4 linked regions of the Homo sapiens genome follow. The protein of the gene in region 3 purifies or fractionates together with the protein of the main gene of each other region. This does not show direct contact. Each region holds a gene or a part of one and is shown on either strand. Other genes may lie near its edges.

Region 1 (9,215 bases), on a different chromosome or scaffold from region 3:
TACATAGCAGATTTTCAAAAAATATTAATAATCCTCTATTATGAATAGTTACTTTGCTAGACTCTACAATATAGTATGCTCTTTAAACCACACATAATGTGGAAACCAGTGAAGGTAAGGATTGCTTTAGGCAGATGTCAAAGACCTTGTTTTAAATCAAGCTATTGTAAGGTGAACCTTGAGGAATGCAGAAAGTAAACTGAGTTAGACTAGACTAAGAGCATGAGCGAAGGGCAGGGCCCCATCCGTGGTAGGGTGCAGGTAGTAATGAGACGACCGGATGGAAGGAGCCAGACTGGGGAACACAGGCAGTGATGGCTGAGGCATCTGAGGCAGCCATTCTGGGTGGTAAATGGATCAAGTCCCAGCAAATTAGCTTACCTGTTGCCAGGGCACCAAGGAATATTCCTGGGCCTAGATGAGCACTTTAGCCAATGCCTTAGCTTGTGAAAATTGAAGACTGTTGTTTACTGTATGCCTAACACAGGTAGATGATACAAAAAGGCATAAAATCGCTACCTAGTGTCCTAGGCTAAAAACCTCAGTCAGCTTCACTCCCTTATCTCCTACATCTAGTCAGTCTCAACATTTTTTTCATTTCTGGAGGCTGAATTCATGTCATCTCCTATCTGGAATATTGCTTAGAATTTTCTAACTGATCTCCCCAGCTCTAGCCTATCATTTGCACTGCTACCAGCATTAACACAGATATGTTCTTTCTCTTTGGTTTTAAAACCTCAGATTATTAAAACCCTCAGAAGAGTATTCCCTTTTCTAAGGGATAAAATCTCAGTTCTTTAACTTCATTGACAAGGCCCTTCTCAGTTTGTCTCCAGCCAATATCTCCATTCATACCTCCTTTAACTCCACCATTGTTCTAGAGATATGAATCACACAGGTTCTTTAAAACGTGGTGATAATCTTTTCACGCTCTGAGCACGGTGGCTCACGCCTGTAATCCTAGCACTTTGGGAGGCTAAGGTGGGTGGATCACTTGAGCCCAGGAATTTGAGATTATCCTGGGCCACATGGCGAAACCCCATCTCTACAAAAACAAATTTAAAAAAGAAATACTTCACCCCCTGTGCTTCTAACATACTGTTCCCTTGGCCTGAAAGGTCCTTCGCTCACATCCTGAAAAATTCATCTTTTAATCTTTTTTGGAGCTTACATCGAGTGTATTCTCAGTGACGCCCTTTCTAACTCAGAAGGTAGAATCAATAGATTCCTTTTTTATGTGCTGATATTTCTTGTCACAAATTATCTAAGAACGTATGCCCTGTGATCTAAACATGTTTATTTTTCAGTCTTCTCTTCTAGATGCTATGCTTTATCCAGGGCAGGAGTCCCATCCAGTTCATCTTTATAATCTCGTGTGGCTCAGCTCTGAGCACTTAGTATTTTGGAATTCATTTGTAAATCAGTTCCTGCCCTGAAGGGGTTTATGATCTCTTGGCAAGACACCAGGATAGGGGACAGCCAGCCTTGTCCTGGAGAATATGCTGTTTGTCTTAGAGATTCTACACACCCCTGCACAGAGGGGTTAGATTACTTTCAGTGTACCCAAACGGATTCTAATATACCTGAAGTGGGTGGAGATGGGAAATATATAATAGTTCAGTACTGCTATGAGAACTCTTCCCCTTCCCTTCAGTAAATTGGTTCCCTTCAGTAAATTGGTTCTAGGCATGTTTCTGTTTTAAAATCTGTTGTAAATATAAAACATCTTTTAAAAAGCATTTTACAATTTGAAAAAGATTCAGTTTGAGCAAATTTAAGTAGAGAAGCTTACAGGCCTTTCAAATAATTTAGGATGCAGAAGTAATGAGCAGAGATCTTTGTTTTGACTCTAGCTGGCAATACTAGGCAGATGTCTGGACATCTTCCTGCTAGCCTTTGACTCACTCAGAAGAAAGACATGTTTAACTATTTAGAGAGGCAAAATCATGGCAGACCAAGAGATTACTATAGTAGTTTTAAAATACAAAACAAAAGCTGTAATTTAGTCTCTTTCTGTTGATAATGGTGAATTCTGTAAAACCTTTAGGCTGAATATACATTGTACCTCCTCTGTTCTTTTTGGCAACATGTACACTGACACCAAGGTAAAACTACGTGAAGATCACCAGCAGGAAATACTTTTGAATACATTTTTTTTGCTACAGCACTTTCAGCCAAAAGCTTAGGAGTATGCTTAATAACAAACACAAAAGATTTTCAAGGGTTTGTTTCAATAACAAGGCATTTATTTGTAAGTTCTTATAGTAGCCAAAAAAAAAAAAAAAAAAGTATTATCAGTACCTGTCAACCCAGGTTTCTTTTACTGTATCATGAATTATCAGTAAAGTATGGGTTCCTTAGGCCTGTGGGTCAGAGCAAGTCCTGCTTTTTTATATAACAATTTCAAGAAGTTAAGAGAATAAAAATGTAGTTCTAATTTTAGGAATAGGGCACTCTTTATGAGTGACTGATTATACTGTTTTATTCCCCATAACATTTTAATGAGATAGAATATTATCCACATTTTATAGAAGACTGGAATGACTAAGGGAGGAGGTTAGAGAGGTAAAGCCACACATGGCTAATACAGAGGTGTCGGGATTTGACCTATATCTATAACTGCAGTGCTTCCTTCTACAGAACAGGGCATTCTGTTACCCATGTCTTTTACATGGTTATGCACTCACACAACTTTGATTAACAGCACTTTTAATTCATATATTTGATTAGTATATTTGAGCTTTTCTTAGCTATTTCTTTAGATACAGTAAATTATTTGTTGCTTTTTAATCAAAAGTACTAAGGCTAGGAAACCAAGATTCTAAATTCTGTATTTAGGACAGGGGAGGGAAAGGTAGCAGCTCTAGAGATGGCATGTGTCTAAGTGATTCTTTGCCAGTTTCTGATGGGATTATTTGACCAATGGTATTCATTTAAATTGGTCCCATCTGTGAAGTGAGAAAACAGAGGTCAGGCATAGGAAGAGTTAGATTTTCTTTCTGGATTAAGTCTTTTCAGTGAGTTCCACTTAACTGATGGGACATTGCTGGGTTGAAATACTTGTAACAGAAATTAATAGTAGTTTTAAAAAACCTATGGCTAGTTACTCTTTGGTCTATTACAAACATCTCCCTTATAAATAAGCATGCATAATTGAGGAATAACTGAATGGTTCCATATAGCAATTTAACATGGATTAAAAGAAATAACACTTTTGAATATAGAAGACAATGTCTGAAGCCTTGGTATAGATCCAAATACTCTCAGTGGTATCTAAGAACAAAATTTTTATTACTAGAAATTCTCTTCACAAATACCTAGTGGGGTAGTAAATTTGCAAAAGTAGTCCTCTTATAAGATAATGTAGATTATAAGATGCTTTAGTAAACTCTGGAATGTCATTCCAATGACCCAAGACCACACATCTCTATCCACTAAACGTATCTGTTAACCTAGCTCAACTACTGATTATGCTGAAATAAAGTTGTTTTTGTTACATCACCATCAGTTCCAGTGGCTGAAACCATAAACTGAAGATGCATATTACTAACAATGCCAGTTAGTTTTAGATATTTTGAATCCATGTTTTGGGTTGCTAGACAGCCACCTTGGAAGTCTGATACTGAGGTGCTATTCACAGGAAGAGCCCCAAATTCACCACCCTGTGTGCCATGATACAGTATAAAATTTACTGTAGGTTGTTCATCTCTCTAAAGTAAACGTCACATTAACATCTCTCAGCATATAAAACCAGGAAGTAAGAGTTCCTCTGTGACACAGAGACTGCCTAAAACATGATGGAAACAGATTTAAAGTGAATGCAGCAGAAGCAGTTCTTTAACCCAAAAGGAAAGGGATAAGGGTTATAAGATAATAGATAATATAGTCTACTTCGAAACATATTTGGCATACACATTTACCAAGATTAATCTTACCTGAAATACAAACATATGCCTTCCTGCGGGAACAGGACCCACTAAAACAGAGTCTAAAACTTGATCGTATTCTTCACTTTCTGCAGAGCCCACATAGATAATTTTCCATTCCAAGTCTAGGGTTAAAAAACCAAAGCATTATTTCATATTCAGTAATTACATTACCAGATGACATCAAAGACCCTTTTAATGTCCACTTAGCCACTTACTGGCTTTAAAATTGGCTTCTCATAGCAATCCAGAAAGGCAGTGAAATGCTCCTTATAAAGTTCCTACCAGAGTTCACACTTTGATCAGAGTTTCTCAAAATACTCTTTTGTGAAACACTAGTTCCTGGACAGTGCCTCACAAACAAGATAACATAGCCAAACACTTGGGAAATGCTGTAAACCTTGTCTTGAGGATTCATAAAGCATGCTGGCACAGTAAGTTTTCTGAGATATCCTTCAGTAAAGAACACCAGTAACATTAATCCAGCACTTCCCAAATTTATTTGGCTATGGAATCCCCCTTTTTTTGTATATCATCTTTTAAGGCCCTTCTCAACACACTTTGGAAGGGCAGCCCTATACTACGCTGCAGAGATCCAAATAATCACAGAGCTCCAAAGTAGAAAAATTATTAGTAAAACCTCCCTCATGGCTCAGAAGTAAGTGGCTTCAGCTCATCAACTGTCAACGAACAATGGTAGGGTTTTTCCCTTACGGCACCCCCCTGTGTCATACATTCTTTAAATTGGGCAGAGGAAACCAAGATCTTTACACCACGTGATACAATAGAGTATACACAGTGGAGATAGGCAGGAGGAAAAGACATTCAGGTGCAATTCAAGGCGTTATATGTAATTCAATATAGCGGATTTTACTGAGCATGTTTTACAATGTGTTCTGTGAAGTGAACCCAGAGATGAGTAGAACTCTTTGGAGGAGTCTCCTGTTTAGCTGAGGAAGAAGATAACTTTGTAATACAAACCATCTCTGAGAGACCTCTTCATCTTCTTTGGGTATTTTGCACTGTGTGGCCTGCCTCTTGCATTCAACACACTGTTACACAAGCACTCCCAAAGGGTGAGTTTCTGGGTCACTCATGACAATCTAGTTAGTGCCACCATGTGTGGCCATTTTTGTGTAACTGTAGATATTTTTGTTCCCTAAATTGATAATAGAAATAGTAACGTACTGCTTATTTATATTGTATTGTAAACTACAATCAACTGAAAGCTCCTTTTTTATTTTCTCTTATTAAGTCAGCAATCATTTTCTGAGGACCTATTATGTCATGGCTCTGTCCTAGAACTAAACCATTTCTATTTCCAGCTTCCAGCACACTTCCAGATGCAGGGTGCTGCATCTGACATCTCCTGAGATCATCTGTTGATGGAGATAGAGAGGAAGTAGGCAATATAAGTATCTCGCCAGAGGGAACAGCAAATACAAAGGCCCAGGGGTAGGGCACACTTGGCAAGAAAAAGCAAGGAGGCTAGGGCTGGAGCAGAATGAAAGGAAGGAGGAAAGCACCAAACCCTATGATTGAGGATGAGGGGAACAGCCAGATCATGCGGTTTTGAAGGCCATCATAAGGACTCTGGCTTTCACACTGCGTGGCATGGGAAGCCATCGAAGGGTTTTGAGCAGAGCAGTAACAGGAGCCAACTTTCATTTTAAAAGGAATGCTTTGATTGCTGTGTTCAATATAGAGTGTAAGAGGACAAGGGAAGAAACAATATTTCAATAATTGAGGCAAGAAATTATGGTGGCATGGACCTCGTGTGGCCATGGGGCTGTGCAACAGTTATATTCTGGATAAAATCCTGAAGATGAAAGCAGCAGGAGCCACTTTTGCAGGGAGGTGATGTGGGGTAGGGGAGCAATCAGGAGTTCATTTTAGACATATTTGAGATGTCTGCTTCTAAGCAGAGATACTGAATAGGCAGGATAAAAATTTGGAACCTGTCAATGATATGTAAAGCCATAAAAATACATGGGCTTGCTCTAGGGAGTGAGATTTGAGCCCTCCAAAGATAAGAGGACAAATTAAGTTACAAAACAAGTGGCAAATGAGGTAGGTGACCCAAAAGCCAAGTGAAGAAACTGTTTTAAGAAAGTGATGTGAAAGGTACTAAACTAGCCAAGTGAGGATAAGACTAAGAATTATCACATAGAGTGGCTGGGCGCAGTGGCTCACGCCTGTAATCCCAGCATTGTGGGAGGCTAAGGTGGCTGGATGGCTTGAGGTCAGGAGTTCGAGACCAGCCTGGCAAACATGGTGAAACCCCATCTCTACTAAAAGTACAAAAATTAGGGGTGGCACATGCCTGTGGTCCCAGCTACTCGGGAGGCTGAGGCACAAGAATCGCCTGAACCCTGGAGGCGGAGGTTGCAGTGAGCCGAGATCGCGCCACTGCACTCCAGCCTGGGCAATGGAACGAGATTGTCTCCAAAAAAAAAAAAAAAAAATTATTACATAAAGGTTTTCATGAATTTTAATTTCATATATAATTGTATCACTACATATAATGCCCTTGATCCTAAGTGGTATAAATTCGCATTTGTGGACTGGCATAGGAACATAGCCATAATTTATAAACCTATTTTAGAAAATACCTACTATATACTGGGCATTAGTTCTACTTCATACCTATTGTTTAAACCTCAACAGCTTCATCATGTAGATCAAATTATCCCCATTATGCAAATAACTTGAGACTCTGAGAGGTTAAGTAATCTACACAAATTCATAATTTGTACATCAAAGAATCAGAATCCAAGCTATGCCTCTGTAACTACAAACCCCGGGCTTCTTCTGAAAACCTAACTGGGAAGATAAATTCTTTCTAGCTCTGAAATTAGCAGTGGAATAAGGGAATTTATTTGCAGGGGAAGTGAGAGCAGAGGAGATGGAGAGAGAATCTAGCCTTAACAAGAACAGGCTGCAACTCAGGGAACACTTGTACATTGATTTTTATGTTTATGGGATGCTTGCTACAGTTGCTGAGTTTTACATGCTCAATACCCTTTTATACATTGGCATCAGTTTTTTTGTTGTTTTTTTTTTTAACCCAGCTTTCATTTAATTCCTCTGCCCCCTGTATTTGAGGGAGGAAGGGTAAGGTCAGATGTTTTACATAAGTTCTCAGGTGAAGAAATTTGTTCATTTATTTTAAAGTTAACTTTTATTTAATCACAGTAATCATGATTAAATGATTTACCCAGCCTGAAAGTATTTACATTTGTGGTGAAAGAGTGAGTGAATGAGGGAAGTCATCAAGAGAATTTTTAGCTAATTACACTACTTGGGAAGACCTGTGGTCTAGTGGAAAGTATGTAGGCTTTGGAATTAGAACAAGCTGAAGTTGGAAAGTATGAAGCACCATGCTCAATTCTGGTATATTATAAGTATTCAATTGACAGTAGCTGTAATTAAGATATATATATATATAAATTTAAGAATGGCAGGATGGTCAATCAAAACTTGTACAGTCTTGGTGACCATCAAGCACATCCAGCCAGGGTCTCAGGCTGTCTTAACCCTTGATATAAGCCCTATATTAGAAAGAACCAAATTATCTTAAGACCAAATATTCCTCAAGGCTTTTTCTGAAGCAAAGCTACAGGGCAGCTCTTAAAGGAAAGTGAACGTTTGGGGCTACTGATGAAAGTATGAAAAACGGTGGCCAAACTCTGCTTTGAGACTTGAGGCAAAATAACTTATTAAGAAAATTCTTTTCAAAATATTCTATAGTTTGGGCTGGGTGCAGTGGGCTCACTATAATCACAACACTATGGGAGGCAGGGGTGGGAGGACTGCTTGAGCCCAGGGGTTCGAGACCAGCTTGGGCAACATGGCAAAACTCCGTCTCTACAAAAAATTAAAAAATTAGCCCAATGTGGTGGCACATCGACTATGGTCCCAGCTATTCAGGAGGCTAAGGTGGGAGGATTGCTTAAGCCCAGGTTGAGGCTGCAGGGAGCAGCTGTGTTTGCACCACTGTACTCCATCCAGCCTGAGTGCCAGAGCAACACTGTCTCATTTAAAAAAAAAAAAATTCTATAGTTTAATTTTAAGAACAGAATTTTTAAAAGAACTGTAATATAAAAGTATGGAACCTATTAGAAGCCTTTGCTAAGTAAAAATTTCCTTAATCCACATAGCCTCTAGGTGGAGTATACAGGCATGGCACCTTTTTGAAAGATTCCTTTGCAGCTTCAGTATGACTCAGCTTAAAATATTTTTTAAAATACTAAATAAATGCTCAGTAATGGTGCCTAGGAAGTGAAATATACCATTGGAAATAAGTATGTTTTTGACACCAGTACTGTAAATCCCTGATGTGATTCAGCTGGGTTCTGAATGGATCCCAGTTAAAAATGGAACGTTTTGGCTTTATGAATGGCTGGTTTCATCTATGCAATGTAAAAGCCCTGTAACGACATCCTGAGTCATCTATCTTCTTTGTTCAGAGCTGACTCCTAAAATGGAAGGCAACACTTGAGAAATACCTGTAATTTGAAGAACTTCTGGTGGTATATCTGAAAAACAGTGTGGTATAAGTTGGAATGGACCGATCAATGGTTTTTCTTTTGTCTATTTTTATATGCAGTTGGCAATAAAAAAAAAATTACTGTTGGGTGTGAAAAATGGGCCTGGTAGCTGCAATGCTTATATTAATAGTAGTATCATAGGAGAGTAATCAAATGACTTCAGAGTAATAAGAAAAATACCCCTTAGTGTTATCAATGGCCTATTTGAAATTATTTTAATAAATGAATCATCTTTCAAAATTTGCCCTATATATGTATGTGCATTTATGCTCTATATAGGTTTAAAAAAAAAAAAAAAACGGGGGCACATGTTAAAGTAATAATTGTGATTACCGAAAGGAGATAGGGCAAGGCACTGAGTACAGAGAACTGTTAACTTTATATATGCCTGTACAACTTTCTAAAAGTTTATTACAATGAATATATATTGTTTTATAATTAAAATTAACCTTACATATGATATATACATTTTAGAGATTAAAAACTAGTTTTTAAAATGAAAAGTTTTACATGCCACGATTACCTAAATCATCTTCAATGCATTTTTTACATATACTTCTAGTTCAAAGTATGTCCCTCATCGATGAAGTTAAACTATTTCCCCTTCAAAACTGGCAAATGAAGCACTGAATTACTTTAGTAAAAGATAATTAAAGCAAAGATAATTGTCGTTTTAGCTTTCTAAATATTTATTACTAAAGATATTAAAAATACGTATTTTTAAGACCTTAAAATATAT
Region 2 (9,215 bases), on a different chromosome or scaffold from region 3:
AGACCTCTCACCCAAGCTCCTCTCTCCTTGCCGTGAAGACCCTCCCCTCCAGTAACCTTTTTTTCCTGTGAAAACCCCTCAACCCCTTTTCAGGACCTCTCTCAACCCCATCTTCCCATTTGTGTCCCACCAGTCCCCTCCCCAACCTGCCAATATTTCAATAACCCCACGCCCACCAGTTGCTGCCGCTTTTCTGCCCCAATGCACATACCCTGGAACCTGGTTTCTCTCCTTCGTTGGGGCCCAACCCCCCTATGCTTGAGCTCTCCCTGGGAAAGGATGCTACCGTCTTTGAGGGGAACTTTGTCTCCCCAGCTCCCCTTCCCCACCTTTCTCTGTGGGCTTGGATAAACACACTGAGATCCGAGGGGTGGCATAGCCAGGCAGGCATTAGCTAGTTCTCCAGGTTTGCCCACCCGTTTCCAGCTGAGTTACTGCAGCAATTTTTCTGTCACTTTTTCTTTCTTCTTCTTCCTCTTCTTTTTTTTTTTTTTTTTTTTGAGACAGTCTCACTCTGTTGCCCAGGCTGGAGTGCAATGGCACGATCTCGGCTCACTGCAACCTCCACCTCCCGAGTTCAAGCGATTCTTCTGCCTCAGCCTCCCGAGTAGCTGGGACTACAGGCGCCTGTCACCACGCCCAGCTAATTTTAGTATTTTTAGTGGAGGCAGCGTTTCACCATGTTAGCCAGGTTGGTCTCGAACTCCTGACCTCAAGTGATCCACCCGCCTTGGCCTCCCAAAGTGCTGGGATTACAGGCGTGAGCCACCGTGCCCCGTCTTCTTCTTTTTTTTTTTTAATATAGCTGGATAATCAGTGCCAAGCTCCCGTTGCTTTTGATGGTCTGACCTAGTCTGGGGGGTGGGTGGATTGGGCTGAGCTGTGACGGGCTCCAGCTTCAAACAGTCGGCTGGAGCTTGGAGGTCACAGCCTCCTGTACATCTTTTCCAAGGTGCTTCCGTAGATGTACTTATTAATCTGTGTGACTTAAAGGTGGGCATGGCTCTCATCTCACAGATGAGAAGACAGGAGCCACAAAACGCAAAAGACCTTTCAAGTCAAGGCCTGTACAAATCCAAAATCTAAGGTCACCTAGGGAGCCTTGGCACCACTAACAGGCAAGTCCTGCTTTCAGGAAGAAGTACTCCATTAGGCCATTTTTCTACTTGGTGGTTGAAAGAGAAAAGGCAGCAGCCGAGGAGGTGGTGATCTGGGGGCCTGTGAAGCCAGGATATGCTAACTAGTGCCTCTCGGGGGCAGGTAGGTGTTTTGCCCTCAAAGCTGGTCGCCTGGACTAGCTTGGAGCTGATAGAGTGAGATGTGGATGTGCTTTGGGTAGGCCAGTGGGTCTGTCTCTCCCCGGTCTCTCTCGCTCCTTTTTAAATTAAGGAGTCTACTTGTGGCTAACTATAGAATATGCCGAGTTAAATCCTTTCTGGAACAAGGCAGCGGGTAAATAAATAAATAAAGTGTAGAATGACGCTGTGGAATAAGATTTAATTTAAAAGCCAGGAGGAGATGGAAGGAAGTAATAGGTTGAGGGATTCCCAGCTCCCCGACGGCAGGAGATCAGGTTTCAATCAGCCTGTTTGTGTTCCTTGCATTTAAAAATGGTTGTGGCCGAGCGCGGTGGCTCACGCCTGTAATCCCAGCACTTTGGGAGGCCGAGGCGGGCGGATCACGAGGTCAGGAGATCGAGACCATCCTGGCTAACACGGTGAAACCCCGTCTCTACTAAAAAACACAAAAAATTAGCCGGGCGTGGTGGCGGGCGCCTGTAGTCCCAGCTACGCGGGAGGCTGAGGCAGGAGAATGGCGTGAACCCGGGAGGCGGAGCTTGCAGTGAGCCGAGATCGCGCCACTGCACTCCAGCCTGGGCGACAGAGCGAGACTCCGTCTCAAAAAAAAAAAAAAAAAAAAAAAATGGTTGTGCGGTCATTATCTGGTACTTCTACTCCTAGGAAGCCCCTGCCCTGTGACTTTACTAACTTATTTATAGAATTAGAGCCGGAAGGGCTAAATTCAACCTGCTGGTCCTTTTTTTGTTTTTTTGGAGATGAAGTCTTGCTCTTGTCCCCCAGGCTGGAGTGCAATGGCGCGATCTTGGCTCACTGCAACCTCCACCTCCCAGATTCAAGCGATTCTCCTGCCTCAGCCTCCCGAGCAGCTGGGATTACAGGTGCCTGCTATGACGCCTGGCTAATTTTTGTATTTTTAGTAGAGACGGGGTTTCACCATCTTGGCCAGGCTGGTCTTGAACTCCTGACCTCAGGTGATCCGCCCGCCTCAGCCTCCCAAAGTGCTGGGATTACAGGCGTGAGCCACTGCGTCCAGCCTCTGCTGATCATTTTTTAATAGAAATGGAGTGACTTCACCAGAGTCACACAGCCAGTTTGTAGAAGTATTGGCACTGAAGTTTTGAATCTAAATTCTTTATCTTTGCTCCAATCCAGGGAAAGAAAGGAAGGATTCCCTGTTTCAGGGGTGGAGCATAGATAGGAATGACCACAGAATTTATTGCCTAATCAGGACACTCAAAATGCAGTGAAGGGAAGTGCTATTATTATTATTTATTTATTTATTTATTTATTTATTTATTTTTGAGATGGAGTCTCGCTGTGTCACCCAGGCTGGAGTGCAGTGGCGTGATCATGGCTCATTGCAAGCTCCGCCTCCCGGGTTCACGCCATTCTCCTGCCTCAATCTCCCAAGTAGCTGGGACTACAGGCGCCCGAAACCATGCCCAGCTAACTTTTTGGATTTTTAGTAGAGACGGGGTTTCACTGTGTTACCCAGGATGGTCTCGATTTCCTGACCTTGTGATCCGCCCGCCTCGGCCTGGGATTACAGGCGTGAGCCACCGTGCCCGTCGTATGATTATGATGATGATGATGATTATTATTAGAAATGGAATCTCACTATGTCACCCAGGCTACAGTGCAGTGGTGCAATCTCAGCTCACTGCAATCTCCACCTCTCGAGTTCAAGCGATTCTCCGGCCTCAGTATCCCAAGTAGTTGGGATTACAAGCTTGAGCCACCATGCCCGGCTAATTTTTGTGTCTTTAGTAGAGACGAGGTTTCACCATGTTGGCCAGGCTGGTCTCAAACCTGATCGCAAGTGATATGCCCACTTCAGCCTCCCAAAGTGCTGGGATTACACTTTGAATCCTAAGCGCCTGGCCAGAGAATGCTATTGTTAATTGTACCTGGATGATAAAGCTTTTCCTTTGAGTAACTCAAGTGAGAAATCCTGGCTCTTCCAGTCCTAGGGCTCTCTGTGACTGATCTGCCAGCTTGCTTTCTGCCTCCTTCTGGACTCCTCTCCATGAAAAAGGGAGAATCTGCCTCACTCTCAGCAGCGTCAACTGAAAATCTGACAAAACCCCCAACCCAGCTGTGTGAGGTGGCTCATGCCTGTAATTCCAGCACTTTGGGAGGCTAAGGAAGGAGGATCTCTTGAGCCCAGGAATTTGGGCCAGCCTGGGTAACATAGCAAAACCTTGTCTCTACAGAAACATCAAAAAATTAACGGGACTTGGTGGCACGTGTCTGTGGTCCCAGCTACTCAGGAGGCTGAAGTGGGAGGATTGCATGAGCCCAGGAGGTCAGGGCTGCAGTGAGCCATGATTGCACCACTGCACTCCAACCTGGGTGAGAGAGCAAGACCCCCATCTCAAAAAAAAAAAAAAAAAAAACCACCCTAACCCCTAAGCCCCAGTTGGGTGACCCCTATTTCTCAGGGGCCCCAAGCCCCCTTTGCACTTTTATCTTCCACATCTGGAAATAGATTCTTCCACATTTAGCTGAGAAATTCAACAGACACTGGTTGAATAAGTCATAGAAGCCAGATGTTCTGACCCAGAAATAACGAAGTTGTTATGGCAGCAGAGCTCATCTTTGATTATGAACAAAGGCAAAAAGCAAACAAACAAAGGAGGCCTGGCATGGTGGCTCACGCCTGTAATCCCAGCACTTTGGGAGACCAAGGCGGGCAGATTACCTGAGGTCAGAAGTTCGAGACCAGCCTGGCCAACATGGTGAAACCCCGTCTCTACTAAAAATACAAAAAATTAGCCGGGTGTGGTGGCGGGCGCCTGTAGTCCCAGCTACTCGGGAGGCTGAGGCAGGAGAATGGCGTGAACCCAGGAGGCAGAGCTTGCAGCGAGCCGAGATTGCACCACTGCACCCCAACCTGGGCAACAAAGCAAGACTCCATCTCAAAAAAAAAAAAAAAGAAAAAGCCAGGTGTGGTGGCTCACACCTGTAATCCCAGCACTTTGGGAGGCCGAGGCGGATGGATCACAAGGTCAGGAGTTCGAGACCAGCCTAACCGACGTGGTGAAACCCCGGCTCTACTAAATACAAAAATTAGCCAGGCATGGTGGCACGCAGCTATAATCCCAGCTACTCAGGAGGCTGAGGCAGAAGAATCGCTAGAACCCGGGAGGCAGAGGTTGCAGTGAGCTGAGATTGTGCCACTGCACTCCAACCTGGGTGACAGAGCGAGACTCTGTTTCAAAAAAAAAAAAAGAAAAAAAAAATGGCCAGGCACAGTGGCTTACCCCTGTAATCCCAGCATTTTGGGAGACCAAGGCAGGTGGATCATCTGAGGTCAGGAGTTTGAGACCAGCCTGGCCAATGTGGTGAAACCCTGTCTCTACTAAAAATACAAAAGTTAGCCAGGCTTGGTGGCAGGTGCCTGTAGTCCCAGCTATTTGGGAGGCTGAGGCAGGAGAAGCGCTTGAACCCGGGAGATGGAAATTGCAGTGAGCCCAGATTGCGCCATTGCACTCCAGCCTGGGCGACAGAGCAAGACTGTCTCAAAAAAACAACAACAAAAAAGCAGGAAGCAGACTTTTTAGCTAGTTCAGCTATACTAATTGTGTACATGTCTTTAGTCTTATCATTTATATATATATATATATATATATACACACAAACACACAGTGGAGGTATGTCTTGCACAGGGACTAGCTTGTGAAGTTAGCGCAGAGAGATAACATGGGACACAGTTGAGTTGCCTTGACATTGCTCAGAAGGTTAGGTACACACGTCATGTGTACAGCTGTGTCCTGTACTCATAGCTATGAGTTCCTGCTGTATTGGTGATTTGTGTCCCATGTATAATTCTAAAGAAAGATTATATTTAGAGATGAAATCATACACGTATGTCTCTACTTATAACACTGCAGCCAGATTTTTTTTTTTTTTTTTAAAGAGATAGGGTGTCACTATGTTGCCCAGACTGGACTTGAACTCCTGGGCTTAAGCAGTCCTCCCACCTCAGCTTCCTAAGTAGCTGGAACCACAGGTGCACATCACCATGCCTGGGCACTTCAGCAAATTTAAGATGATTCTCGACTGGGCATAGTGGCTCATGCCTGTAATCCCAGCACTTTGGGAGGCCAAGGCAGGCGGATCACAAGGTCAGGAGATCGAGACCATCTTGGCTAACACAGTGAAACCCCGTCTCTACTAAAAATAGAAAAAAAAATTAGCCGGGCGTGGTGGGGGGTGCCTGTAGTCCCAGCTGATTAGGAGGCTGAGGCACAAGAATGGCATGAACCCGGGAGGCGGAGCTTGCAGTGAGCCGAGATCGTGCCACTGCACTCTAGTCTGGGCAACAGAGTGAGACTCCATGTCAAAATAAAATAAAATAAATTAGAATTACAGGTGCACACCACCACGCCCAGCTAATTTTTTATATTTTTAGTAGAGATGGAGTCTCACTCTGTCACCCAGGCTGGAGTGCAGAGGCACGATCTCAGTTCACTGCAACCTCAGCCTCCCGAGTAGCTGAGACTACAGGGGCATGCCACCACGCCTGGCTAATTTTTTGTATTTTTTGTATCACCATGTTGCCCAGGCTGATCTCGAACTTCTGAGCTCAAGCAATCCACCCGCCTCAGCCTCCCAAAGTGCTAGGATTACAGCCATGATCCAATGATCCACCTCACCTGGCCCTATACCTATAACTCTTTTTTTCTTCCTTTCTTTCCTTCTTTCTTCTTTTTTTTTTTTTTTTTTTTTTTTTTTTTTTTGACGGAGGCTGGCTCTGTTGCCCAGGCTGGAGTGCAGTGGCAAAATCTCGGCTCACTGCAATCTCTGCTGCCTCCCAGGTTCAAGCAGTTCTTATGCCTCAGACTCCTGAGTAGCTGGAATTACAGGTGCACACCATCATGCCCAGCTAAATTTTTATATTTTTAGTAGAGATGGGGTTTCACCATGTTGCCCAGGTTGGTCTCGAACTCGTGAGCTCAGGCAATCTGCCTGCCTCGGCCTCCCAAAGTGCTAGGATTACAGGTGTGAGCTGCCGTGCCCAACCAGCTTCTGTAACTCTTGAGTCAGTATTTCTCTACAGCCGTTAGTTAATTCTCCAGTTTCTTTCCAGCCCTGGTTGAAAGAGCCATTTCAGCCCCTGTGCCTGACAGTCAACACAGTACATTTTTTCTTTTTCTTTTTTTTCCTTTGAGATAGGGTCTCTGTCGTCCAGGCTGGAATGCAGTGGCTCGATCATGGCTCACTGCAGCCCTGAACTCCTAGGCTCAAGCGATCCTCCAACCTTAGCCTCCCGCATAGCTGGGACCACCGGCACGCGCCACCACACCCAATTAATTTTGTTGATTTTTAATAGAGTCGAGTCTGCCTATGTTGCAGGGGCCCATTTATTTCGGTGAGTTTCCACATGCTCTTTGTTTAGGTTTTGCCGATTAGTATTGACCTCAGCTGGACAACATCAGGTGCTCGTGGGTACACTTTAGTCTTTTTTGTCTACCTTCCCAGGACATGAATTAAATGCACCCGTACAGGATTCTACCGGCTATGAGAGGAAAGGGCTCAAGGATATACACCAAAATGATACAACTGCTTTAGAAAGGAGAGAGCAGGGCTGGCTGGCTTTTCTGTCTTCCCCCAAAACTTGATTCCAGTTGTGTCACTACTTGTAACAAAAATAAATCAACAGGCTGGACATGATGGCTCAGACAAATTCCAGCACTTTGGGAGGCCAAGGCGGGAGGATTGCTTGAGACCAGGCTGGGCAACCAAGCAAGACCTCATCTCTAAAAACAATTTAAAAATTCCCTGGGCGTGTGGCACAAGCCTGTGGTCCCAGCTACTTGGGAGGCTAAGGCAAGAGAATCACTTGAGCGCAGGAATTTGTGGCTGTAGTGAGCTATGATTATGCCACTGCACTGCAGCCTGGGTGACGGACCGAGACCCCATCTCCAGTGAAAAAAGTCAACTTCCTCCCTGCAAATAGTAAGAGGCTAGTTCGACCAAACACCTGTGAGTTCAATGGTCACCCGTATCCTACAGACCTGCTATAGGGTTCCTGAGTGAAACCACAAAGGGACAGGCAGCCAGTGCATCAAAGAAGGGCATGGGGCTCAGGTGACAAGCCTCTGTAGTCATGACCTGGCAGCAGCATGCTTCCAAAGTTGGATGCTCTTGTGGGACACTGGACCAAGGAACAGGGCAGCTTCTGAGAGAGTTTGCTTCCTGTGAAAATCACAGCTTGTGAAACTTCCCCCAGCTGCTAGAGCTGAAGGGTTGTGTAATTTCTAAAGAGCCAAAAATAAGTTTCAAGCCTCTTGCCAAGCCTCCCTGTACCAGCATGACCTTGCCCCTGATACACTTGGACCTCCTGCAAGAGGCCATGTTGACCGGAATTTCCTGTGATTGACAGCCAGAGGTTCCATAAGCACTTTCCTTTCATCTCAATGGAGCATATTCAGGGGAGGGGGCCCTCCTGCTGGATGGGGTGCAAGAGTTAGGGTTTGAGGCTGGGCACGGTGGCTCACACCTGTAATCCCAGCACTTTGGGAGGCGGAGGCGGATGGATGACCTGAGGTCAGGAGTTCGAGACCAACCTGGCCAACATGGTGAAACCCCATCTCTACTAAAAATACAAAACATTAGCCGGCTGTGGTGGCGGGCGCCTATAATCCCAGCTACTCAGGAGGCTGAGGCAGGAGAATCACTTGAACCCGGGAGGCAGAGGTTGCAGTGAGCCGAGATCTCACCATTGCACTCTAGCCTGGACAACAAGAGTGAAACTGTCAAAAAAAAAAAGTGTTTGGAGGATCACCCCGGGATGCCACATTTGTTGACTGAGTTGCCCAAATGTCTCTAAGTAGGCATGACTTGGTGCCAGATCTGGAAGACCAGGGTGGCTGGCTCCCTGAGCAACCTCACCTTCCCCCTCCTGCAGGCTGGCTCTCCTGCCGGATTGGAATCTGCCACCCTGCCCCAGTTGTCGAGGGATCCACTTCGTTGAGTGGCACCGGTCCCTGTGTGTGAAAGAGGATGCTGCTTCCTATCCCAGCACCCAGTGGGCAGGGCCCTGAAATGACCCAACTCCCTGCCGTTCCCTTCTCAGCACGTCTGTGTCACGTGGCTCTTAATTCAGCCTCTGCCATACAGTTCACGCTCAGGCCTTGAGAGGCCCAGGTTTCCCCAGAGGTATAGTCAAGGTCACCTGTCATAGCTAGGCTTACAAGACAGAATTCCCTAATGGAGGTAGAGCTTTGTGCCCACCTCAGCATTCAAGACTGCAGTGCCTGGCACTAAGTGTCTGACAGATGGAATAATAGTCTTTTAACATATTAAGGATCTGTCTAAAATTACCACAAGGCTGGGCACAGCAGCCCACACCTGTGATCCCAACATGGTGGGAGTCCGAGGCAGGAGGATCGCTTGAGCCCAGGAGGTTGAGGCTACAGTGAGCCATGAACATCCCGCTGCACACCAGCCTAGGCAACAGAGGGAGACTGTCTCAAAAAATAAGTAAATAAAAATAAAATAGAAGATGTGGCCGGGCGCAGTGGCTCACACCTGTAATCCCACCAGTTTGGAAGGCTGAGGCGGGCAGATCACTTGAAGTCAGGAGTTGGATACCAGCTTGGCCAACATGGTGAAACCCCATCTCTACTAAAAATACAAAAACAGGCCAGGTACAGTGGCTCACACCTGTCATCCCAGCACTTTGGGAGGCCAAGGCGGGTGGATCACCTGAGGTCAGGAGTTCTAAACCAGCCTGATCAACATGGTGAAACCCTGTCTCTACTAAAAATAAAAAAATTAGCCAGCCATGATGGCAGGTGCCTGTAATTCCAGCTACTCAGTAGGCTGAGACAGGAGAATCGCTTGAACCTGGGAGGCAGAGATTGCAGTGAGCCAAGATCACACCATTGTACTCCAACCTGGGTGACA
Region 3 (4,941 bases):
TCAGTGACAGACTGGATAAAGAAAATGTGGTATATACACACCACAGAATACTATGCAGTCATAAAAAAGAACAAGATCATGTATTTTGCCAGGACATGGATGGAGCTGGAAGCCATTGTCCTTAGCAAACTAACACAGGCACAGAAAACCAAATACTGTATGTTCTTACTTAACAAGTGGGAGTAAATGATGAGAACACATGGACACAAAGAAGGGAACAACAGATACTGGGGCCTACTTGAAGGTGGAGGTTGGGAGAATAGCAGAAAAATTAACTATTGGATACTAGGCCTAGTATCTGGGTGTTGAAATAATCTGTACAAGAAACCCCCAAGACACTAGTTTACCTATGTAACAAACCTCCACATGTACCCCTGAATCTAAAAGTTAAAAAAGAAAGAAAAATCATATTGAAAAAATAAAATTACCAGGATAACCTTAAAGAAATGTTTTAAAGGTGTCAGATGTAAAATCTTAGAAGCAAAGTGTGGAAGGAATGATAAGTATTTAAGAATGAGGTTTATTGTAAGTATTTAAGAATCATATCATCACACATTAACATATCACAACTAAGCATTTATTATACTGTTTAAGAAGGGAAGCAATTGCAGTAGTATTTCAGAAGCTTTATCTTTCTTTAAATGCAATATATGCTCATAAACTCTAAACAGTATTTTAAAATATACAATCTCTCCAAAAGAAAATATTCAACTAAAGATAGATAACTTTTAGTATAAGCAAAATGTCACAAGATTTTAAAATTAAAGTCATCAGATTTTTCACAGCACATTGTACAGAAAATTTGCAAGCTTCCTGTACAGAGCAGTATAATCTTTACTCTTGAGCAAGTCGTTCAATAACACGCCGGTAATCTTCCACTAGTTCCTGAAAACTCTCTTCCAGCTGTTCATGTTGCATGCTTATTTCTATTTGGTTCATCTGGTTTGTCAGTTCTTCTGGTCTGAGACATTTTCTCATCTTAGCAAGATCTCTCTGCTTTTTCTAAGTGACAAACAATTATTTGTTAGACGAAGAAAGTAAATATATTTCCTTATAGTCTTACAATTTTAAGTCTCCAATGTTAAAAATAAGAATAGTATGAATACGCCCAAACTTGTCCCACAATGTTTTTTTTTTGTTTTGTTTTGTTTTTTAAGGAAGCTTAAACATAATGTTAACCATGAATTGCAAACCCTCTAAAAAGAGTTAACAAGAAGACCTGGTATTTGTGTCCAATGATGGTAAATACAGACATGTGACTAGCAGCCCCCTCCAAAACTTTAAAGAACTCTGGGCAGTATAGACACTCAAATATTTGCTTAATAGATAGAAGACATTAGCTGAAGAAAGACAACTGAGATTAAGTGCTATTATTCTTCATTTTACTATTCAGTCATTAATTAATTACATTTTAAATTCCACCCAGTGAAGTACTTACGGGCCACATGCTAATTTTAACATAAACTGTTAGAAATGTTTCAGAAAGACAAATGGAAAACTGCTATACTTTAAAAATATATTAAATAGCATTTGAGTCTTTATTAAGTTCCAGACATACATTATCATACTAAACCCTCCTGGTTTGACTTAGGATACCGCTATGCTAAGGAGTTTGCAACAGGTAGCTGATAACAACTTTTATGCAGGACACTGTGTCAGAGATGTTTAGGATGGGACTGGAGGACTGGGCAGCTACTGCAGTAGTTCAAGCCAGAGTTGATGAAAGCCTAGATCAAGTCAGCAGCAGCAGAGATGGAGAGGACAGGGCAGATTTAGGGGAGAAAATACTGGGTGATATGAGGAAGGAAGAATGAAGAATAACTCCAGGATTCCTGGTTGGGTGGCATTATTGCAAATATGAAGCTTTCATGTTTCGGATATACTGTTCTAGAACTCCTGGGCCCAAGTGATCCACCCACCTTGGCCTCCCAAACTGCTGGGATTACAGCCATGAGCCACCACACCCGGCCCAGTTCTGGCCTTTTAGACTGGTGAACTGGCTGGACAGGTAAAGGTACTTAATAATAATATAAAAAAGAATTATCATTCTTTAAGAGTAGAAAATACTTGCACTTATGAACTACAGAGGTTCCCATTATTTGGCATTAGCTGTGTGACTACTATTTGTACTCAGAATTTCCATCTTTCATTTGTTATATTTTATATAAAAGTCACATTAATATCTAAAATATATAATTCAATAAATTATTTTACTTTAGTAAAATCTTAATAACTCTTAAATGTTGCCATCTATACTGCTCTCTGTGCCCAAATTTCATCATTAAGACATTTTCTAGCTAACAAATATTACTTAAAGGTCAAAACCTTTGGAAAATACCATTTTTACCCATTTTCTGATGTTTCTGAATTGATAACATCAAATAATAAAATGCTACTTTGGATAACTTTTGAGGAGACCATTATAATTTATTACAAACCTGCTATATGCAGATGATGGTCTGTAAAATAGAAAAACTATTAAACTGCAATGAAATGACACTATGAGGAACTATTCATACATCTGTGTATGAATTCAAGATAAAATGATTTAGTCATAGGCAAATAATAATTTTATATTCAGAATGTGAACAGAATTACAATGACAAATTAGGAAATACAGTTGCACTGCAAAGTAAAAAGATGCTATGAAGGAAAAGTTGGGATTCAGCAAGTAGTGTCAGCCAATGAACCATCAGCATTCAAGACTGGCTCTATAAAGCAGAATCCATGGCAAATAAAACTTAAATTTTCTTTAAATTTACAAAGGAAAACCAAAACTATGTGTACCTGATACAGTTAGTTAATTTACTTTCTCAAATTGTAATGTAGAATCAACTTGGTCACTTATGTTCCCAGCTATTGTGATGTATAACCCTATAGGTATAGTATATATAAATGCAGCAACAACATTTTATCATTGAGCAACTGTACTCAATAATTATATGTTGAATAAATTAAATATTCTGCCAATCATCCCACTACTCAGCTGCAACTAGATGACAAATTTTCTTCTTTTTTGAGATGGAATTTTGCTCGTCACCCAGGCTGGAGTACAATGGCGCAATCTTGGCTCACTGCAACCTCTGCCTCCCAGGTTCAAGCAATTCTCCTGCCTCAGCCTCCGGAGAAGCTGGGATTACAGGCACCTCCCACCATGCCTGGCTAATTTGTGTATTTTTAGTAGACACAGGGTTTCACCATGTTGGCCAGGCTGGTCTCGAACTCCTGACCTCAGATGATCTGCCCGCCTCAGCCTCCCAAATTGCTGGGATTATAGACGTGAACCACCGCACCTGGCCTTTTTTTTTTTTTAAATTTTTTTTTTTTTTTTGAGATGGAGTCTTGCTCCATTGCCCAGCCTGGATTGCAGTGGTATGATCTCAGCTCACTGCAACCTCTGCCTCCCGAGTTCAAGTGATGCCCTTGCCTCAGCCTCCCAAGTAGCTGGGATTACAGGTACCCACCACCACACCCAACTAATTTTTGTATTTTTAGTAGAGGCGAGGTTTTGCCATGTTGGCCAGGCTGGTCTTGAACTCCTGAGCTCTGGTGACCTGCCCACCTCGGCCTCCCAAAGTGCTGGGATTACAGGCATGAGCCACCACGCCTTGCCTAGATAGCAAATTTTCATTCACATAAGGTGGCATAAACAATATCCATCCTGACAATGTCCAAATGATAAGGCCAATTTGATCTAGGAGGGAAAATATGGAAGATGACGACGAAGTGGGAAAAAAGGGCAAGAAGAATGTTTAAAAATATAATAGTACTAACATGGTTTCGGCTATGGTAAAGTACAAAGATTATATTAATAAATAGCAATAAAGGCTATTTTTAGGAAGAAGAAAGCAAAAGCAAAGAGAATATATATGTATAACTTTGCTTTTATCTGGGAAGAGAGAAAAAAGAGAATATATATATATAACAACTGAGAAGACAAGAAACTTGGGAAAAACAACATAATTTGTTAGGGAAGAGACTAGGCATTCAGATTTTTTAAAGATGCATACAAATGAAAGAAAAGCTAACCATGGTAGACTATCCTTGGGATAAGTTTGTTTGTTTGTTCTGAGACACAATTTCATTCTGTCACCCAGGCTGAAGTGCAGTGGCACAATCTCAGCTCACTGCAACCTCCACCTCTTGGGTTCAAGTGATTCTCGTGCCTCAGCCTCTCAAACAGCTGGGATTACAGGCACGTGTTATCATGCCCAGCTAATTTTTGTATTTTTAGTAGAGATGGGGTTTCGCCATGTTGGCCAGGGTGGTCTTGAACTCCTGACCTCAAGTGATCCACCTACCTCGGCCTCCCACAGTGCTGGGATTACAGGCGTGAGCCACTGCACCCGGGTTTTTTTTCTTTTCTTTTCTTTTCTTTTCAGATGGAGTTTTGCTCTTGTCACCCAGGCTGGAGTGCAATGGTGCAATCTTGGCTCACAGCAACCTCCACCTCCTGGATTCAAGCGATTCTCCTGCTTCAGCCTCCCAAGTCACTGTATTACAGGCGCCCACCACCAAGCCTAGCTAATGTTTGTATTTTTAGTAGAGACAGGGTTTCACCACGTTGGCCAGGCTGGTCTTGAACTTCTGACCTGAGGTGATCCACCCGCCTTGGCCTCCCTGAGTGCTGGGATTACAGGTGTGGGCCACCACGCCCGGCCATGAGTGAGAATTTTTATAAATTACTGGAAGAATATTTCTACTTTTGTAAAAGTTAATTTTACAAAATGACTTGGACTCTCTCATATACTGATATTTGGTAGCTTTTCTTCTGTTTTAAACAGTGAAAAGAATACAGTGTTTAAGATTCTTGAAAGTCCTACCTTATATGGGCTAATTAGTCTTCTTTTAATATCCAGTCTGTAGCTTCTGTATTGTTCGGCATCACTCATGTCAGTTACCAGTAGTCGAAGAATTTCATAAACCCTTCTAGCGTGTTGC
Region 4 (9,215 bases), on a different chromosome or scaffold from region 3:
AAAGGAGAGACTATATGGGCACAGATTTATGGCACAGTGTTAAGAAATTTCTCTTCATATTGTTTATTCAGTGAACAAACAAAAATCCAGAACCAAATATAAAACAAAGGAAAATCATCAGGTAAAAGCAAGATGACGGGTATGGTGTTGAATGTTTAAGAATATATAAAGAAAAAGTTGATCAGCTGGGTGCAGTGGCTCATGCCTGTAATTCCAACAACTCAGGAGGCTAAGGAGGGAGCATCATAGGGAGGGCAGAAGTTCAAGACCTGCCTGAGCAACATAATAAGACCCTGTCTCTAAAACACACACACACACACACACACACACACACACACACACACACACACACACACACACACAAAACTTAGTCTGGCAGGCTGAGGCAGGAGTATCTCTTGGTCCAGGAGTTTGAGGCTGCACCAAGCCAGGATCAGGACCCACTGTACTCCAGCCTGAGTGGCTGAGCAATACCCTGACTCAAGGGGGGAAAAAAAAGAAGGAAAGATTAAGCAGTTCCGCAGAATGGGAAAACAACTTGACCGGAGAAATGCGGTATAACTGCCAATCAAAACTAAAAACCCACTTCAGGTCAGAGGTTATAAATTTAAGGTGAGACTAATAATGTGTTTTCCAACCATCCTTCATGTTTCTCTCAGAATCAGAATATTCTGGTCCTCTAAAAATCAAATGCTTATGCCAAGCATAGTGGCTCACACCTGTAATCCCAGCACTTCAGGTGGCTGAGGTGAGAAGATGGCTTGAGCCCCAGCCTGGGCAACGTGACGAAACCTCATCTCTAAAAACAAAATACAAAAATTAGCCAGGCATAGTGGCACACATCTGTGATCCTAGCTACCCAGGAGTCTAAGGCAGGAGGATCACCTGAGCCCAGGGAAGGTCAAGGCTGCAGTGAGCCACGATCGCTCCACTGTACTCCAACCTGGGCAGTGAAGTTTAATACTGATGATTACATATCAAGCACTGTGTTTTGGATAGCCTAGCTACATTTAGTCAGTCCAGAAACTTAAATACTATGGTACATCCTATGAGTAACCCCCTTGAAAGTATTGTGTTTAGGATCAACCCTAAACAGTATTCAGTATTCATACCACCCAAATACCAGATTAACTCACAAGAAATTTTGTTGTTGTTTGTTTTTTTTTTTTGAGAGTTTCGCTCGTCACCCAGGATGGAGTGCAGTAGCGTGATCTTGGCTGACTGCAACTTCCACCTCCCGGGTTCAAGTGATTCTTCTGCCTCAGCCTCCCAAGTAGCTGGAATTACAGGCGCTAGCCACCACGACCGGCTAATTTTTGTATCTTTTTTAGTAGAGACGGGGTTTCACCATGTTGGCCAGGCTGATCTTGAACTCCTGACCTCAGGTGATTCACCCACCTCAGCCTCCCAAAGTGCGTGAGCCACCGCGCCTAGCCCTATTTTGTTTCTTTCCTTTTTTTTTTGGAGACAGGGTCTCACTCTGTCACCCAGACTAGAGTGCAGTGGCAGGATCATAGCTCACCACCACCTCGACTTCCTGGGCTTCCGCAATCCTCCTACCTCAGCCTCCCCAGTATCTGGGACCACACGCAAGTGCCACAACGAACAGTTAATTAAAAAAAAAATTTTTTTTTTTTGTACAGATGGCGTCTTGCTATGTTGCCCAGGCTGGTCTCGAACTCCTGGGGTCATGTGATCCTCTCAGAGATGGAGGTCTTGCTTGGCCTCCCAAAGTGTTGGGATTACTGGTGTAAGCTACCACACCCAGCCAAGCAGTATTTCATAAGACTTATTTTAACCCTTTTCCCGTTTAAGAGAAAAAAAAAAAAGTACAGCTCATTGCCAGCACTCATTTAATTTTACATAAACATGTTCTTTGAAGCTGAAGCAAATCTGACTTTCAGCATGAAAATAAAAATATAAAACTGTTCTCGGAGTTTTTTTTTTTTTTTTTTTTGGGGGGGGACAGTCTCACTCTGTCACCCAGGCTGGAGTGCAGTGGCACAATCTTGGCTCAATGCAACCTCCACCTCCCAGGTTCAAGTGATTCTCTTGCCTCAGCCTCCCGAGTAGCTGGGATTATAGGCGCCCGCCACCACGCTCAACTAATTTTTGTATTTTTAGTAGAGAGAGGGTTTCACCATGTTGGCCAGGCTGGTCTTGAACTCCTGACCTCAAGTGATCAGCCCACTTCAGTCTCCCAAAGTGCTGGGATTACAGACATGAGCCACCTGCCTGGCCGGAGTTATTTCTAAACACAACTAATATCAGAATCGCCTATTTCATAAAAATTGGATTCATCAAATGAATCTTTGGCCAACAACCATTTGAGAATGATGTTAACATCATACATAGGAATGCTACGTTTTCTAGGATTTGACATTTACAGCAATCGAGAATTACCCTATTTTGTAAATGGAAATAACCATTACTAAAAACAGAGTGCTATAAACAGAATGATGTCTTTTTATCCAAAATCTATATATTAGAGTGATGTGAAAATAATAATAAAGGAGAGCTATTTCATGGCAGTTTTCACTGGGTAAATGCAGCAGCCCCAAGCACCACCAGCAAGTATTCTCAGGGCAAATGGGAAAAGGGTTAAATAACCAAGATGACAACAGGATTTCAAACATGAAAAACATAAAACCCTATGGACGCTTAAAAAATGTATTTGTGGCCGGGTGTGGTGGCTCACGCCTGTAATCCCAGCACTCTGGGAGGCCAAGACGGGCAGATCGCCCGAGGTCAGGAGTTCGAGACCAGCCTGACCAACATGGCGAAACCCTGTCTCTACTAAAAATACAAAAATTAGCCGGGCATGGTGGTGGGTGCCTGTAATCCCAACTACTTGGGAGGCTGAGGCAGGAGAATCGCTTGAACCCGGGAGGCAGAGGTTGCAGTGAGCCAAGATCATGCCATTGCACTCCAGCCTGGGTGACAGAGTGAGACTCCATCTCAAAAAACAAACAAACAAAATATTTGTAAGATATTCTAACAGTAATAATTCTCAATCTTATCAGAAAGCTTTTCCATAACACATGAACCCAAATTTTATCTCAAGCTCAACAAATAAAATCAGCTGGGCATGGTAGATCAGGCTGGTAATCCCAACACTTAGGGAAGCCAAGGCAGGGGGATTGCTTGAGCCCAGGTTGGAGACCACCCTGGCCAACAAAGCAAGACTCCGCTTCGAAAAATATAATTCGGGTGGGCACAGTGGCTCACGCCTGTAATCCCAACACTTTGGGAGGCCAAGGCGGGCAGATCACCTGAGGTCGGGAGTTCAAGACCAACCTGGCCAACATGGTGAAACCCCATCTCTACTAAAAATAGAAAAATTAGCTGGGTGTAGTGGCACCCGCCTGTAATCCCAGCTACTTGTGAGACTGAGGCAGAATTGCTTGAACCCAGGAGGCAGATGTTGCAGTGAGCCAAGATTGCGCCACTGCACTCCAGCCTGGGCGACAAGAGTGAAACTCAGTCTAAAAAATAAATAAAATAATTAGCCAGATGTGGTGGTGCATGCCTACAGTCCCAGCTACTCAGGAGGCTGAGGCAGAAGAATCCCTTTAGCCCGGGAGTTCGAGGTGGTGGTGAGCTATGATAACATCACTGAACTCCAGCTTGGGCAACAGAGCAAGACCCTGTCTCTAAAAAATGAAACAAGAAATCTCTAGGGATGTAACCTACCATCTACCTTTTGGGTAAGCTTTTTAGTTAATTATTATGCCCACCTCTGATTAAGAAACATAGTCACTACGGGTGTAGATCTGAGATAAAGAAAAACAAAAAACCATAGCCATATCAAGATGGAAACGTTACAGGGGGAGGAGGTGAGACGGGCCTGGTAGTTCACACCTATAATCCTACACTTTGAAAGGCTTAGGCAGGGAGGAATGCTTGAGGCTAGGAGTTTGAGACCAGCCTTGGCAACATAGCAAGACCCCATCTCTCCAAAAAATTTAAAAATGAGCGAAGTGTAGTGGCATGTGCCTATAGTCCTAGCTACTCAGGAGGTTGAAGTGGGAAGATTGCTTGAGCCCAGGAGTTCAAGGTTGTAGTGAGCCCTGATTGCACACTGCACTTCGGCCTGAGCAACAAAGCGACACCTTGCCTCTATCAAAAATAAATTAATTAAAAAATAAAAATAACTTTAAAGTTATATTGCTCTTAGTTTATGTTTCTGATACGAATCTAACTACCATGTAAATAATCTTACCTCTCCACTTTATCTGCAGATGTAGAAGGAGCAGGAACATCTTCAATTCTGTAATAAAAAATTAAAGGGGAAAAAATGTAAAACTGGAGGCAATTATTAAGCCTGAAAATAAAATAAATTCAGAAAAATATAAAGGAATAAAAGAGCTGTCATTTATTAAATACTCAAGTATTATTTACTTACTTACATTATCAAATTTAATTCATTTAATTCTTACTCACTCAAATATCCAGGGCTGAAAATAAGTGGCAACTTCACAGCTATAACCACAGGGATGAGGAACAACTTAAAGGGCAGTGCTTTCAGCTACAGGTTGTAAGCTATCTGGGCCATTTGCCTAGAATCTTGAAATGGTCTTGGATCCTTATCTACAAACTCCGTCACAGCCAGTCATGTATATCGAATAGTTTTATTAAGAGGTCATTCTGACCAAATGGTCTAGCACAGAGCCTCTCAAACTACCTGTGGTTAAGGGACTAGGTCTTTTATTTCCCTATATAACCTTCTATAACACACAGGTTTTTTTAAATACAATGTCAGGGAGATATCACAGCGAGACTCCGTCTCAAAAAAAAAAAAAAAAAAAAAGTTACACTATGACTGCAATATAAGACTCTGAATTGAATACCATTAAAAGCAAGGAACCAGTAAAAACACTATTAAGTATCATTGTAAAGCATTTATCAGTGATAAATTTCTTTTCTTTTTTTTTTTTTTTTTTGAGACAGAGTCTTGCTCTGTCGCCCAGGCTGGAGTGCCCTGGCACGATCTCCGGCTCACTGCAAGCTCCGCCTCCCGGGTTCACGCCATTCTCCTGCCTCAGCCTGGGCCTGGTGCCAGGCCGGTGCCTGTGCACCGGCCACCATGCCCGGCTAATTTTTTTGTATTTTTAGTAGAGACAGGGTTTCACCGTGTTAGCCAGGATGGTCTCGTCTCCTGACCTCGTGATCCACCTGCCTCGGCCTCCCAAAGTGCTGGGAATACAGGCGTGAGCCACCGCGCCCGGCCGATAAATTTATTTCTATTCTTGCTTAGCACAAGCCTAGACAAATAGAAAAGAGGGTGAACTAAGGCAGTACTTGTATAGTTGGAAAAAAAGATGAATTAAAGCAGTGTTTCTCAAATTTTAGTCTGTATGCAAACCATTTGGAGGAACGGTTATAACAGTTTGAGCTCCACCCCCTACAGTTTCTGAGTCAGAAGGTTTGAGGTAAGGTTGAAGAATCTGCATTTCTAACAACTGCCCAGGTGACACACTGCTGGTTTCTAGAACCATGCTCTGAGGACTACTGGATCAGAATAAAAATTATAAATGGATGTTCATGTCCTATCTGGGCAATAGGTATGTCTGATTCAGTTTTGTTTTGTTTTTGAGACAGTCCTTCTCTGTTGCCCAGGCTGGAGTGCAGTGGTATCATCTCAGCTCCCTGCAACCTCTGCCTTCTGGGTTCAAGCCATTCTCCTGCCTCAGCCTCCCAAGTAGCTGGGATTACAGGCGCCCACCACCACGCCTGGCTAATTTTTCTGTTTTTTACCAGAGATGGGGTTTCACCATGTTAGCCAGTCTGGTCTCGAGCTCCTGACCTCAAGTGATCCTCCCGCCTGGGCCTCCCAAAGTGCTGAGATTACAGGTGTGAGCCACTGCGCCCAGCCTGATCCAGTTATTTTTTAAAATGTTAATTCTAATAGTCACTACATTTACAACTATGAAGCTATGGCTTCATAGTTTTATGACGTTCATTATGAATTTTTAGAATGAGCATGAATCCAGAGAAGTACTAGAGGAAATGATAGGGAAATTACTTGGTAATTTGTTTGGAGAAGGCCGTTTTAAACCCAGAAACCAGACTGGGTGCAGTGGCTCTCTCCTGTAATCCCAACACTTTGTGAGGCCTAGGTAGGTGGACTGCTTGAGCTCAGGGGTTCAAAAACCAACCTGGGCAACACAGCGAGACCTATCTCTACCAAAAATAAAATGAGATGGGCATGGTGGTACATGCCTGTAGTCCCAGCTACTCCAGAGACTGATATGGGAAGATTGCTTGAGCCCAGGAGATAGAGGCTGCAGTGAGCTATGATCATACCACTATACTCTAGCCTGGGTGAGAGAGTAAGACCTTGTTTCAAATAAATAAACAAACAAACCAGAAACCATAGGATATTGACAGATTCTACTCCATCTAATTCATTTCACAAAAGGTTAACTTAGCAAATATACATAGAATCTTAGTCAACAGGATAAAAAAGCCCAATGGGAATAGATTAATGGATTTAATATAAACACTCACAAACAAACAAACAAACAAACAAACACTTGACCACCTGCTACTGCTCATTCTTTTGTTTTTGAGACGGAGTCTCGCACTGTTGCCCAGGCTGGAGTGCAGTGGCGCGATCTCGATCTCGGCTCACTGCAAGCTCCGCCTCCCGGGTTCACGCCATTCTCCTGCGTCAGCTTCTCAAGTAGCTGGGACTACATTTTTTTTTTGTATTTTTAGTAGAGATGGGGTTTCACCGTGTTAGCCAGGATGGTCTCGATCTCCTGACCTCGTGATCTGCCCACCTCGGCCTCCCAAAGTGCTGGATTACAGGTGTGAGCCACCGCGCCCGGCCGCTCATTCTTAAGAGAAACAAAAAAACTATACTTAGAAAGTATGTTTTACCCATCGAATAGTCAAAGATAGGGTTAAGGAGAAATTGTACTCCCATACATTGCTAACAGAAATTCAAGGCTAGGCTCACAGCTATAATCCCTGCACTTTGGAAGGCAGAAGGACTGTTTGAGGCTAGGAGTTTGAGACCAGGCTAAGCAGCAAAATGAGACCCCTTCTCTAGTTCAAAAAATTAATTTTAAAAAAAGAAGTGTAGCCTGGGCACGGTGGCTAACGCCTATAATCCCAGAACTTTGGAAAGGCAAGGTGAGTGGATCACCTGAGGTCAGGAGTTCGAGACCAGCCTGGCCAACATGGTAAAACCTCATTTCTACTAAAAATACAAAAATTAGCCAGGTGTGGTGGCGGGCGCCTGTAATCCCAACTACTTGGGAGGCTGAGGCAGGAGAATTGCTTGAACCCTGGAGGTGGAGACTGCGGTGAGCCTAGATCGCACCAGTGCACTCCAGCCTGAGCAACGGAGTTAGACTCTGAATGACTACAGTCATGCGCAACCACGCCTGGCTGATTTTTGTATTTTTAGTAGAGACGGGGTTTTGCCATGTCAGCCAGGCTGGTCTCGAACTCCTGGCTTCAAGTGATATGCCCGTGTTGGCTTCCCACAGTGTTGGGATTACCACGTGAGCCACACCACCTGGCCCTTTTTTTTTTGAGATGGAGTCTTGCTCTGAGGCTAGAGTGCAGTGGCACAATCTCGACTCACTGCAACCTCTGCCTCCCGGTTTCAAGCGATTACAGGACCCTGCTACCCATGCTCGGCTAATTTTTGTAAACTGTAGTCTCAGCTACTTGGGAGGCTGATGCACAAGAATCGCTTGCACAGGGGAGGCAGAAGTTGCAGTAAGCCAAGATCTGGCCACTACACTCCAGCTTGGGCAAGACAACAAGACTCTCTCTCCAAAAAATTAATTATATATATATATATATATATATATATGAAAAAACTCAAGACAAACCTCATAGCCTAGAAATGTTGAATTAACAAAATGTATGTAATCAATGCATAAAAGATATGTAGGTACTAGTCTTCTTCACTACCATAAAATACAAATTATAAAAAGTTAAAATTCATCAAAACACACAGACCATACACGGCACCATCCACAGTTGAGATATGTAAATGAACAAAGATGCAGTATTAAATCATAACTGCAGCCGGGCACGGTGGCTCACGCCGAGACCGGCTGATCACCTGAGGTCAGGAGTTCGAGATCACCCTGGCCAACATGGCAAAACCCCAAAAAATTAGCCAGGTGTGGTGGTACACACCTGCAGTCCCAGCTACTTGGGAGGCTGAGGCAAGAGACTTGCTTGAATCCGGGAGGGCGGAGGTTGCAGTGAGCAGAGATTGTGCCACTGCACTCCAGCCTGGGTGACAAAACTCCCTCTCAAAAAAAAAACAACAAAAAAAAACCAACTAAGAACTAGTTAGAAAGCTAAGAATGACAGGATTAATTTAGCATGTAGATATACATCACCTTAAACAATACTGCTTTAATGGCACGAGGGGACAAAAGCCAACCTAAGACTTTTTGCAGACGACAAAACTGTGGTCCAATATCACTACTGAAGCAATGAAGCTGCTATCAAAGCCAATTCTAAGCCAGGCGAGGTGATGCATGCCTGTAGTCCCAGCTACCCAGAAGGCTGAGATGGAAGGATTGCTTGAGACTAGGAGTTGGGAATCCAGCCTGGGCAACATAGTAAGATCCTCATCTCCTAAATTTAAAAAACCTGAACTGAGGTTTATTTCTCATTCCATTTTTTTTCTTTCTACTGGTTTGGAAGTTATATTTATTCTTTCAATGGTCATCCTCGAATTATAATGTACATTCTTACCTAAAGTCTAAATTCAAGTCATTTTCTTTATCCTACCCTTAAACATGAGGACCTTATAAACTTTACCTCTAAGTGTCCCCACTAACTTACTTAACTGAGACACACTGCTTTCATGTTCTCTCACACTAATTAGATGGGGAAACGAAGAATGAAAATGAAAATGAAAATACTAGCCAGGCTTGGTGGCTCACGCCGGTAATCTCAGCACTTTGAGAGGCCCACGTGGGTGGATCCCTTGAGCCTAGGCGTTGGGAGACCAGCCTGGGCAACATGGCAAAAACTCGTCTTTACAAAATAAATACTAGAATCAGCTGGGCCTTGTGGTGTGCGCCTGCAGTCCCAGCTACTCGGGAGGCTGAGGCCGGACAATCACTTGAGGCCAGGAGGTAGGGGCTGCTGTGGGCCGAGATGGCATCACTGCACTCCAGCCTGGGTGACACACACACACACCACACACACACACACACACACACACCACACAC

Evidence for each region.
Region 1: the proteins of HAT1 (region 3) and ASF1A purify together in Homo sapiens (affinity purification with mass spectrometry; 5 studies listed by BioGRID and IntAct, with this or other methods). This does not show direct contact.
Region 2: the proteins of HAT1 (region 3) and ASF1B purify together in Homo sapiens (affinity purification with mass spectrometry; 7 studies listed by BioGRID and IntAct, with this or other methods). This does not show direct contact.
Region 4: the proteins of HAT1 (region 3) and NASP purify together in Homo sapiens (affinity purification with mass spectrometry; 3 studies listed by BioGRID and IntAct, with this or other methods). This does not show direct contact.

What each region holds. Positions count from the first base shown.
Region 1 is NC_000006.12:118,895,602-118,904,816, reverse strand, and holds part of ASF1A (histone chaperone ASF1A), read right to left. Parts: intron 4,052-9,215; coding exon 3,936-4,051; intron 1-3,935. UniProt on the Homo sapiens protein: Histone chaperone that facilitates histone deposition and histone exchange and removal during nucleosome assembly and disassembly.
Region 2 is NC_000019.10:14,126,507-14,135,721, reverse strand, and holds part of ASF1B (histone chaperone ASF1B), read left to right. Parts: intron 1-9,215. UniProt on the Homo sapiens protein: Histone chaperone that facilitates histone deposition and histone exchange and removal during nucleosome assembly and disassembly. Cooperates with chromatin assembly factor 1 (CAF-1) to promote replication-dependent chromatin assembly.
Region 3 is NC_000002.12:171,979,246-171,984,186, reverse strand, and holds the end of HAT1 (histone acetyltransferase type B catalytic subunit), read right to left. Parts: intron 4,941-4,941; coding exon 4,824-4,940; intron 1,003-4,823; coding exon 835-1,002; 3' UTR 501-834; downstream 1-500. UniProt on the Homo sapiens protein: Histone acetyltransferase that plays a role in different biological processes including cell cycle progression, glucose metabolism, histone production or DNA damage repair. Coordinates histone production and acetylation via H4 promoter binding.
Region 4 is NC_000001.11:45,586,278-45,595,492, reverse strand, and holds part of NASP (nuclear autoantigenic sperm protein), read right to left. Parts: intron 4,271-9,215; coding exon 4,223-4,270; intron 1-4,222. UniProt on the Homo sapiens protein: Component of the histone chaperone network. Binds and stabilizes histone H3-H4 not bound to chromatin to maintain a soluble reservoir and modulate degradation by chaperone-mediated autophagy.